2 separate regions of the Homo sapiens genome follow, and region 2 is linked to region 1. Evidence: fine-mapped expression QTL. A gene starts in region 1. The other region holds a variant in brackets. All regions are shown on one strand. Distances are between the middles of the regions.

Region 1 (5,364 bases):
GTCAGAAATGTGGAGTTGGGAACAAAGTTCAAAGGGTACCTGGACCCCTGCATAAGCATTGTTGACCAGCACATCTAGACGCCCTTGCTGTTCCCGATCCACTTGCTCAAACAGGCTTCGCACTTCACTCTCCTGGCTTGAATCGCACACCACAGGCACACATTGGCCCCCGAGGGATTGTGCCTGGAGTAGGACAGGGGATATGAGCTCACATTCACACATGGGTGTGAGTCATGACAAAACTCCCCAACCAAAGTGGGCTTGAGAACTGAGAAGACAATCAATCCTAGGAGAGCCTGCTGCAGAGGCAACATGGCAGGCAACGCTGCCCTCTGGTGTCTGTTTGAGTAGTTTCAGGAATGATAGGCCTCCCCACCACAGAGCAAGGTGAATTGCAATGTAAGTTTTAATAATCTACAAACATTTACTGAGGCCCACCATGTGCACAGCATTGTACTTTGCAAGTAGAGGGTAAGAACAAGTGAGGCATGGAGTCTGCTCTTGAGAAATGAGTAAGCATCCTTTTCCTTGTTGTGGTCATTTCCATCTCTCATGCCCTTAGCTCCCACCCTACACTACTCACCTAAAACCTCTACTCAGTCCCAGTTGTCTTACCCTCACTCCACCAATGCTCCTGGTTGGTAATTGAAAAAACCAAAGCTATCAGCCATGAATGATTTCTACTTCCTGTTCTGTCTCACTCTCTACAAATGCCCACAAACCTCCAACTTCAGAGGAAGAAGAGTCCTTTATCTAAGAACAATCCTCCTATTCTCCAAATTTATGCTCTGGGTCCCCGCCTATTACCCTCCTTGCCTGAACTACTGCAATGCCTCCCAACGACTCACCTGACCTCCAGTCTGTCTGCCTTAAATTAATTCTTCATAATCCAGCCAGTACGACCTATCTAAAACACAAACCCTGTTCAAAATCTCCTAACTGGATCTCCATCTCTTAGAGGATGAAGCCTGAGTTCTCTATTAGGGTCTTCCAAGACCCACTCTTTCCTCTCCAGCCTCTCACTCACTACTCTTCCCTTGCATTATCTCACACATCTACTCTTTCACACAGCGTCCCTATGCTTATGGAGCTCCCTCTGCTGGAATGCTTTTCCTAACTTCCTTTACCTAATTCTTACCTTTCAAAACTCAGTTCAAGAACCACCTACCTCCTCCAGGACGCTTTCCCAAACCACTTTCCCTAGCCACTCTCCTATGTCATCTGGATGCTCCCCAACACCCCTAGAGTATTCTGTGCATATCTCCCTCTTATAATTTACCATATTCACATTACATTGAAGTGACTGCTTTCTGTACCTGACTTCCTGTTGGAATCTATCTTCATTTTTAATTAAAATTTTTTTTTTTAGAGACAGGGTCTCACTGTCACCAGGCTGGAGTGCAGTGGTGCAATCATAGCTCACTGCAACCTCGAACTCCTGGGCTCAAACGATCCTCCTGCCTCAGCCTCCCAAGTAGATGGTACTACAGGTGCAGGCCACTGTGCCTAGCTAATTATTTAAAAAATATTTTTTGTAGAGACTGGGTCTAGCTATGTTGCCCAGACTGGTCTCCAACTGCTGGCCTCAAGTGATCTTGCTGCCTTGGCCACCCAAAGTGCTGGGACTACAGGCATGAGCCACTGTACTCCACCATGGACTGAATCTTTGAAGAGCAGAAATTAGATTTTATTAGTCTTGGTAACTTCAGTGGTTTACCAATGCCTAGCAAATCATGGATACTCAAATATTTATTTAACTGAAGTCTAGTAAATAAGTAAAAAATGTGCAGTTCAATAAAGTCTTGCCTGAAATAGAGGAAAGCACAGGTCCACAACCCTTTAGTTGCAATTCCAAAATCTCTGCTCTCAAACAAAAAGTTTTTTACTTTTCTTTCTTTTCTTTTTTTTAATACAGTGTCTCGCTGTGTCGTCTAGACTGGAGTGCAGTGGTGTGATCATGGCTCAACTCCTAGGCTCAAGCGATCCTCCTGCCTCAGCCTCCGGAGTAGCTGCTGGGACTGCAGGAACGTGCCACCATGCCTGGCTCAAACACAAAGTTTTTTCATAAAACTCACTTGGCGGCAAAATTCTACCTTACCTGAAGTTATTTACGGGGTTTTTAATTTCCACTTTGAATAAATATTCACATCTTGTTGAGTAGTATTATAGTTTCAGGTAAGGGATTAGGAAAGGAGCTGTTAAGTGGAAGGGCTCTCTCGGGTGGTTTCTGCAACTGTGGTCCCAGAGGAAGCACTCACCTCCTGAGCAACAACGCGAAGGGTGTCCAGATGGCGGCCAGTGATGTAAACTGTGGCGCCTGCTTTGCAGAGCTGCAAGGCAATGCCACGGCCAATACCCCTGGAGGCACCAGTCACCACACACACTTGGCCATTCATGGGAGCTGCCATGACTCACAGGCAAAGGAGGCAGGTCTGTGGAAGCAAAGACTTACTCTGAGGGAAGCCTGGAGACTGTGTGTGTGTTGGGGCGAGGTTGGGGGGTAGGGGAGAACCTCACTAGGGCTAAGAGGAGGAGCCAAGGTAAGAATCCTTTGAGGGGAGAGGAGTCAGAGGCTGACAACTGGGTGCGGGCCTGAGGACAAGGCTGACTGTCTTTTGGGAGGCCCAGAGAGTGAAGAAGGGGCTGAGTGGGACTGTCCAGAGGTGGACAACTACTACAACCCTCTGAGTGTGGCTGCCTGGATATGGGAATCTGGCGCGGCAGCCCCTCGGGGCGCGTCCACGCAGAGTCCTGGGCTATCTGAAGCTCCGGTCCCTGGCCTGACCCAGTCCGGCTGAGCCAGAGGCGCAGCTTCCGGGCCGGGGATGAGCGCGAAGCCTGGAGATCCTAAGCCCTAAGTGGGACGAGCGTGCGCCGCTTACCTGCCACCTGCGCTGCCGCTGAGGTCTGCAGATTGCGGGGCTGCGGTGGAAGTCTGGGTTCTCGCCCAGATTGAGCCGGCGACGTGGAGGCAGTGTTCAAGGATTGATTCTGTAGTAGGACCCGGGGCGATTCTGTGCTGAGGTAGAGGGGCAGAGTCCCAGGCCAAAGTTAGAACCTGCGGATGGGGGCGGAGCGATCTGGGTGACACACCCACCCCGCCCGGCTGGGGCGGCGCGGAACTATGACGTAGTAGCTGCGTCAGGAGCGCGCCCGCGTTTCTAAACTTTGTCTGGATAAGGCGCACGCTTGGCGACGTCGAAGGTCCGTCCGCAGTTAAGGAAGCTTTTGCAGCCGGACAGGTCGCGAAGCACACATGGGGCAGGGTCCGCGCTCTCCACACAAGGTGGGGCGCCGGTTCCCAGCTGGTGGCAAACGGGGGCGCGGGGCCAAGGGGTCGGGGCGCCCCTTACCAGGCCGTAAGCGGCAACCCTGGCCGCCTCCGGATGGGCGCTCGGAGCCGGCTCCAGATTCGCACCCGCACCTGAGCCCGGAAGCTCTGGGATATTTCCGCCGGGCGCTGTCAGCATTGAAAGAGGCTCCCGAGACTGGGGAAGAACGAGGTAGGCAGCAACTTCGGGGTTTAGACCAAGAGCATCAAATCCAGGGCAGGCAAGGAAACTTTCTAGGGTCGGCAGGGCGTGGGGACTTAGTTTCATTTCCCATGTCCTCTTCCTCGGCCTCCGACCCACGACCCTTGGTTAAGCGAGGGTACATAACTGTATTCTCTACTAAGTCTCTTCAAAGTGTGTCTTTCTTCCCTTTTCAGATCTGATGGTGCACAATATAATGAAGGAAGTAGAGACTCAGGCCCTAGCTTTGTCCACGAACAGGACTGGCAGTGAGATGCTGCAGGAACTGTTGGGATTCAGTCCCTTGAAACCGCTTTGTCGCGTGTGGGCTGCTCTGCGCTCTAACTTGCGCACTGTGGCCTGTCACCGATGCGGGGTCCATGTATTACAAAGTGCTTTGCTACAGCTCCCTCGATTGCTGGGGAGTGCTGCAGAGGAGGAGGAGGAGGAGGAGGAGGATGGAAAGGATGGTCCCACGGAGACCCTGGAGGAGCTGGTCCTGGGACTAGCCGCTGAGGTGTGTGATGATTTTCTTGTCTACTGTGGAGACACACATGGCAGCTTCGTGGTCAGAACTCTGCTTCAGGTGTTAGGAGGGACTATTCTGGAGTCTGAGAGAGCCAGGCCCCGTGGTTCCCAATCATCTGGTAAGTATTACAAGAGGAAAGTGGACCTAGGGGGAAGAAGAATTTAGAAAGTTCAGAATGAGACAGTAAACAGAAGAGTAAGTCTTCATGGGGGAGCTTGACCGGGAAGAATTAGCTTGACCTGTCCTAATCTGAACAGGGCTTAGCAAGCCAAAGATTAGTGTGTGCGGAGGCCCAGAGGTAGGGATGTACAGTTGTGTTTGGGGAAGGCTATTAGAATGGACGCAGGAGGAGAATTTTTTTTAAGCATGACTTAATATACAAATGGACTTAAGCAAAAGTAACATACACACTGGACTCAAGCAAAAGTTCAGGAAACTATACCCTTACTACATGCAGCCCACTCTGTTATTTTTTTTTCCTTTTCAAAACTATTCTGCTCTATTTCATTTAAAAAAAATGCTAGTTGAGACCACTAACTTGATTTCATGGTACAGTCTTGAGCTGTGATCCACATTTTGAAAAACTAGGAAATAAAGTTAGCGAGTTTAAATGAGGCTTTATTTTGGAATGGCTTGAATACCTGGCTGAGGAGGTTGAACTGTCTTCTGTGGACCATGGGGAAGCTGGTTGAAGTTTCTTAGAAAAATTAAGACAGAAATGTAGTCTCAGTTCAGTCATCCAGAAGAGACATTTAGTTGTACTACATCTGTTCTGCATCTCCAAGCGGAATCCTTGTTCATCTGTGAAATTTTTCTCTCCTGGATGGCAGTTTGTGATCTCCCCACTGCACATGTTCTTAATCTTCCTTCAGAAGCACAGAAGACCCCAGCTCAGGAATGTAAGCCAGCTGATTTTGAAGTCCCTGAAACCTTTTTGAATCGCCTTCAGGACCTGAGCTCCTCCTTTCTGAAGGACATTGCAGGTAAGGAGGGAAGTAGGAGGATGGTCTCGTATCTACTTGTCTGGAGGTCATCTTACCACCAAGCAAGGCCCTTACCTCAGGTTATTCCTCTTCTTTTCAAACCTGGTCTGGTTTGACGTTCAGAGCACTTTGTATAGTCCCTTTGTGTCCATAGTGCCCTGTATCTTGTTGCCTAAAGTTTGAGGTTACGCAGGTTGTCTGGATTTTGGGAAAGCCGCTTTATTTCTGCCCTCTCTCCACAGTGTTTATCACTGATAAGATCTCCAGCTTCTGTCTTCAAGTGGCTTTACAGGTTTTACACCGCAAACTTCCCCAGTTTTGCGCTCATCTCTGCAATGCT
Region 2 (5,320 bases), 37 kb before region 1:
GAGATGACCCGGGAGACATTGACTGGGTCTCCACGGCCTCCATATGGCATCCCCCGCCGGTCCAGGATGTATAAGCAGGCATCCAGCACCCCGTGGTCAAACTGGAAGGAGGGATGGAGGGCAGAGGTGACAGCCTGAACCCTAGGCCAGCACCCTGCTCCAATACCCCAGCCCCCACACCCACCCCAGCTCCTCTGGGTGTATGTGACCCTGGCCAGCCGCACCATACCTGGCCGTAGTTCCAGGTCCGCTCACCAATCTGTGCTTCGGTCCCGTAGTAAATTCTCCCAGACTCATTAAGAACATACTCCTGCCGCCAATCCTCATGGTCCACGTACACAATGTCCTCTGTGTCCCCAGAACACACAAAACTGGTTCCCTCCAGTTCTCTCCCTGGGCCTCACCTACTTCTGGCCAGTTCTGCAGGACTCATGTCCACAGAAGAAAATGCGGGGATGCCCCTAGCCTGACAGGACTGCTGTGGGAGGACACGGGGAGCATGACAGATGGTGGAGGAGATTGGCTGTAGCCAGGGGCCTTTGCCAGGAGAGGTGTGGCTGGCTGTGTGACCCTGGGCTGGCCACCTTTCTGCACCAGGCCTCGGTCCTCTCATCTGCCCAATGGGAGGCTGGCTTCTCCTGGGGTCAGGCACCTAGGCACCCCGCCACATCCGAGGGCAGGAAGCCCTTCCCTGTCTTTCCCTCCCATCTACCCTCTGCTCCAGACCCCAGCTGCTCACCTGGGCACCAGGGGTTGAAGAGGATGTAGATCTCATTGCGGGGGTCAAAGGGCAACTGGAACTCCCCAGCGTCTGATTGTGTGCGGACTGTGAACTGAAACTTGCCGATGATGGCGTTGGGGGAAGTGTGGACCCGCAGGTTCAGATTCTGCCCACTGGCCTTGACCACCTGGGCTTTCCAGCCTCCACTGCCCCCCTTGCCCACTGGGATGATCACGTGCGTGCCCTTGCCCACCTCGGGGTTGTTTCCTAGAGTAGGAAATCAGCAATTAGCTGGCAAGGCCTCCCTGAGGAGAGGGGATGGAGCCTGGGACTTCTCCCGGCCCCACCCACAATGTGTATGAGCCACTGTGTATGTCCCTACGTTGGGCCATCACCTTATTCTCTGACAGTCTCCCTTAGAGCAGCTCTGTCTCCACCCAATGCTTGCCCACATGTTAGGGCAGTGCCGCAGTCCAACATCCCAAACCTGTTCCCCTGACACTGAACTCTGAGGTGGGGAGGAGAGACGAGGGCTCCTGTCACCTTCTGCCTGCCTGACTATCACAGTGCCTGGGCTGGAGGGGCAGATCCACCTGCCCCGTATGAAAGGGCAGTCCTGATCCTGAAGGCCAACCCTGCCTGCTTCCTGGGGCTGCAGCTTCCAGAGCCCAGGGCATCCCTGGTGGAGGTGGTAGGGGTTCCTGGGAAATTAAAGGATGAGGTGGGCAAGGTTAGGCCCTAATCAAAGGGTAAAAGGAGTCACCTGCCCCAGGCAGCAGCATAATCACCAGCCTGAGAAGTCAAGCTACACCAAGCAACGCGGTAAGGGAGGCACCTGCCTTGGGTCATGGGGACAGAGGGACAGAGACAGAGAGAGACAGAATTGGCAGAGATGGGGGACATGGAAGGCAAGAGGGAGAGAGAGAGATAGAAGAGAGAACCAGCCACATCCTGGGGAATGAGAACAGATGCACAAAGGACAGAGCAGCAATGCCGAAGGAGGCACCGAGGCAGGCCCTGAAGAGGAGTACTCTGAGACCGATGCCCCAGGAGGCTTGAGGAGGATGGGCTTGGGAAAAACTGCAACACCAAGACCCTCTCTGAGACACAACCCCAGGGGCACACCCACACACTTGCACCTGCCTTATCTGGCAGAGGTGAGGAGTGGGGCAGGGAGGAGCCTAAAGACCTCTCTGACCCTAATGCCAGCCTCTCCCCACCAAACATAGGGCCTTCACCCGTCCCAATCCAAGCCCCACTGACCGATGAGTAACTCAAGGGTGATGCGATCAGAGGATTCATAGGTCCGGGACAGGAGGAGGAGCATATGGAAAGGCTGCCCGCGGCGCACTATCAGCTCGTCGTACTCATACTCGTCTGTGTGGTGCTCTCGGCGGTTCTGGTCCGAGCGCGAGCTCAGCAAGTCCACACCGTTCACTACTAGCATGCCCTCTGCAAGGACACAGCTCCGTGTCAGTGAAGCCCCATGAGGAGCCCAGGCCCTTATCATTAGCTTCCTATCCCCCCCAGAAATGCCAGGCTGAGTCTCTGGTCCCATTAAAGCCTTTTAGCTCTCAGCTGAGGAGGACAGACCGGCCTCACCTCGGATGGTGCCATCTCCAGCTGCATTGACACCGCTGCCCCGGGATACAGGCCGGCGGGAGTCTGAGCCCCGGGAGCCAGGTCTTCGAGTGCCAGAGCTGGACCCTCGACCCCTGGAGTCAGAGGGTTCAGGTCCCCAGTCGTCATCTGCCGCATTTCGGCATGAACAGCAGCCACAGCAGCGAGCCCAGAAGGAACGGCCTCCTCCTCTGCGAGAGCGTCCGTCTGGCTCTGGCTCTGGCTCTGGAGATGGCGTGGTAGGGGGCTGCAAGGGGTTGCCACCCCAACGGCCCACATCGGAACGTGGCCCATCCATCATGCCTGTTAGGAAGAGGCAGGGTGGCTCCTTAACCCAGGTAGTCCCAGCCAGTTGACCCAGAAACCCTCCATCCAGACAGCTGATTCAGTCCCACCCGATGACCGAAACAATCCCACCTTGGCCCAGAGATTCTCCAGACACATCCAGAGACCTTC[C/T]GCGAAGACCATTCAGACTCACCCAGAGAAGCTTCTCATGCTGCAGAGAAAAGCCTTCCCCTCACCCCCACCAAACAACATCCGAAAAACTGCCCAATGAAGAAACCCACTCAACGATCCATCCCAGGAAATCCACATAGTTCCCTGCATGGACACTTGTCCCAGCCTCAAGACCCAGCTGCACACACATCAGAGTGCTCCAGCATCCCTGGGCCTGGTCCGTCCACCTGCTAGCTCTGCAGTCTAGAGGTGCACAACACTGACAGCTTCTAGAACTCATTTCTTAGCAGAAATCCCCCAACTCAAGGTTCCTCACAAGACAGACAAGTGACCCCGGGGCCTGTGGTCCTTGGCATTCCCAAGTCAGGGAAGACCCCACTTGGGGCTGCCAGGAGGGGTAGGGCATGGCAGGTGCCCGGAGCCTGTGCACAGGGAAAGCAGAGTCTTGGTGTTGGGAACAGCCTAGCTGGGGCTGACAGGTACACAGCTGGCCCACACCCCACCTTGCTGGATCCAGGCACGGCCTCTGATAGTGTGGGCCGCCTGGACTCGGCACCACAGTACCCGTGGGAGCCCCTCACCTGGCAGCAGTGTTGGCAACCGCAGTACTGAGTCCTGGGGCTGAGATGGAACAGGTCAGGATGGATGGGACAGGACCCACAGACTGGATGCCGCAGGGACAGACCTGGTAAGTGACTTATGTGGGAGGGAGGGGCCAAACTGCTGTAGGGGGCGGAGAGAAGAGGCCAGGCCTCTGGGCGGGAAATGGGGAGAAGATGCTAGGGAGGGAGCAGGGGTGAGGTCTGGGGGCTTAGGCTGGGCTTTGGTGGGAGCCACCGCTGTGATGGCCCCTGGCACCAGGCTGATTCCTACCAGACTGGGCATGTGAGGAGCCCCTTCTCCCGGATGAAGAAGCTGCAAGGGCAGTGGGGCAGGCAGGCCCTTCCACCCACAGCCCTGTCTGGCCGACCTTCTGGTCCCAAGCTTAGGCTGCCTACCTCTGCTCTCACAGGCTCCTGCTGCCGAGTTCTGTGCAGCCCAAGCCAGGCTCAGCCCTATGAAATTGGCCCAGGGGCCTGGTCCTGGAACTCATCCTGCCCAGGGAGGTCCTGGGATCCCAGGTTGCAGACTGGTGACATCAGCAGCCAGGCCCTCAGACTGGCTCCACCAGCTAACCCCTGACCTGCTGGCTCTACCAGATATTCTGACTCCCTCCACCCCCAAGTCTGTCCCTTCTTTCTCAGCTGCTCTACAGCCCCAGGCATGAGTGAGCTGCCCTCAAGTTTGGGATTAGGGAGATCAGAGTAGGAGCAATCTCATTTCACGTCCCCCACCCCCGCTGTAGCCTCGGGGGTTAGGGGATGTTTAGGCCTTTCCACTCAGGCTTGGGTGGGAACTGAGTCCCCCTTCCAGGGGTACAGAGTACCTTTCTCTCACTGAGAGGAGTCTCTGCTCAGTTGGACTAGAGGATTCCCTTTTCTCCAACCTGGAATTCTTCCTGGGAATCCAGACCAACCGGCTCAGGCACCTGTGCTGTGTGCATCCTTACTCCACCCCGTCACTGGGGAAACACTGAGGATGGCACCAAGGCGATCCCAAGGTAGAGAGGAGGAGGCTAGGCATCTTCAGGGAGGCTCTCCTTGGGTCTTGTCCTCAGGCCCGTCAGCCAGGGCCTTCTTCCTTCTTTCCTTCCTTCCCACTAGTGTCCCAGCTCTGCCCATGGGCCGCCTAGCAGAAGACAGTAAAAACAGGCCGACAAGAAGACACAAGGAAACAGAATCCAGGAGGGGCTGTTTGGTGATGCATCAGGCAGGGAGGTGCCGTGGGGAGTGGGGACAGAGAGGCCCCAGGAACTGGCAGGGAGCCCTCCACACCCACACTGCCTTTTCTTGTCCAGCTCCAAGCACCAGAACCTGCCCGGGGGTGGGGGCAGGTGCCCCACCTCCAACACCCTCAGTAGACACACCAGTGGATATAAACTTCCAGGCAGGTCAGCCAGAGGGCTTTGTGCAGGGGCTGCGGATTTGTGCATCACTGCAGATACGGGAAGGGGCAGGGCCCTGGCTGTCCGGACGTGTGTGAGCACATGTGGGCCCAGGCAGATCCCAGAGAACCAGTAGGATGCCTTTGTCACACTCTCTCCCTAGCTTTAATCAATCTTTCTCTCCCCACCCAGCCAGGTTTGAGTCAGTGCCCTAACCCCTGAGCCAGTCCCCTCCCCCCACCACCACTCAGGACTCTCTAGGTCAGGACAAGGTGTGTACATGGTATGTGTGGGGGGACACCATGGGAGCAGACACTCAGCTCAGGACCTCAAGGAGCTGAGGCCAGGCCGCTGCCCAACCATTCCTTAGCAATACAGAAGCAAGAACATGAGTCTAGAATCCTAGACCAAGGGTAGAGACAACTTTGGTTTCAGTGCTGAAGCGCTCCGGCCAAGAACCTTGGGCAAGTCTCAACAGCAGTTTCCTCATCAGTACACTGGGCCTAAAAATCTCATCCCTGAGACTCTGTGAGGATCAA

Which allele goes with the higher level. Positions count from the first base shown, and alleles are read on the strand shown. Sizes are in standard deviations (SD) of each study's normalised expression.
For the expression in whole blood of the gene that starts at base 3,152 in region 1, T is the low allele of the variant in region 2 and C is the other (small effect, 0.39 SD a copy in GTEx).

The links.
Region 2: its variant is fine-mapped to the expression of NOP9 in whole blood (GTEx, PIP 0.92).

The regions. Positions count from the first base shown.
Region 1 is chr14:24,296,699-24,302,062 of GRCh38, forward strand. NOP9 (NOP9 nucleolar protein) reads left to right here and starts at 3,152. Exons shown (of 10, transcript NM_174913.3): 1 at 3,152-3,503; 2 at 3,710-4,159; 3 at 4,914-5,024; 4 at 5,267-5,364. The coding sequence starts at 3,257. DHRS1 (dehydrogenase/reductase 1) reads right to left here and starts at 3,082. Exons shown (of 9, transcript NM_001136050.3): 1 at 2,883-3,082; 2 at 2,259-2,432; 3 at 40-183. The coding sequence starts at 2,408. RefSeq lists an enhancer at 1,636-2,426.
Region 2 is chr14:24,259,711-24,265,030 of GRCh38, forward strand. TGM1 (transglutaminase 1) reads right to left here and starts at 3,467. Exons shown (of 15, transcript NM_000359.3): 1 at 3,379-3,467; 2 at 2,324-2,644; 3 at 1,985-2,173; 4 at 740-988; 5 at 230-348; 6 at 1-101. The coding sequence starts at 2,642. RefSeq lists promoters at 2,642-5,320, 2,642-4,395, 2,650-2,845, 3,406-5,072, 3,455-5,320 and an enhancer at 3,942-3,950. The variant C/T (reference allele first, on the strand shown) is at 2,798.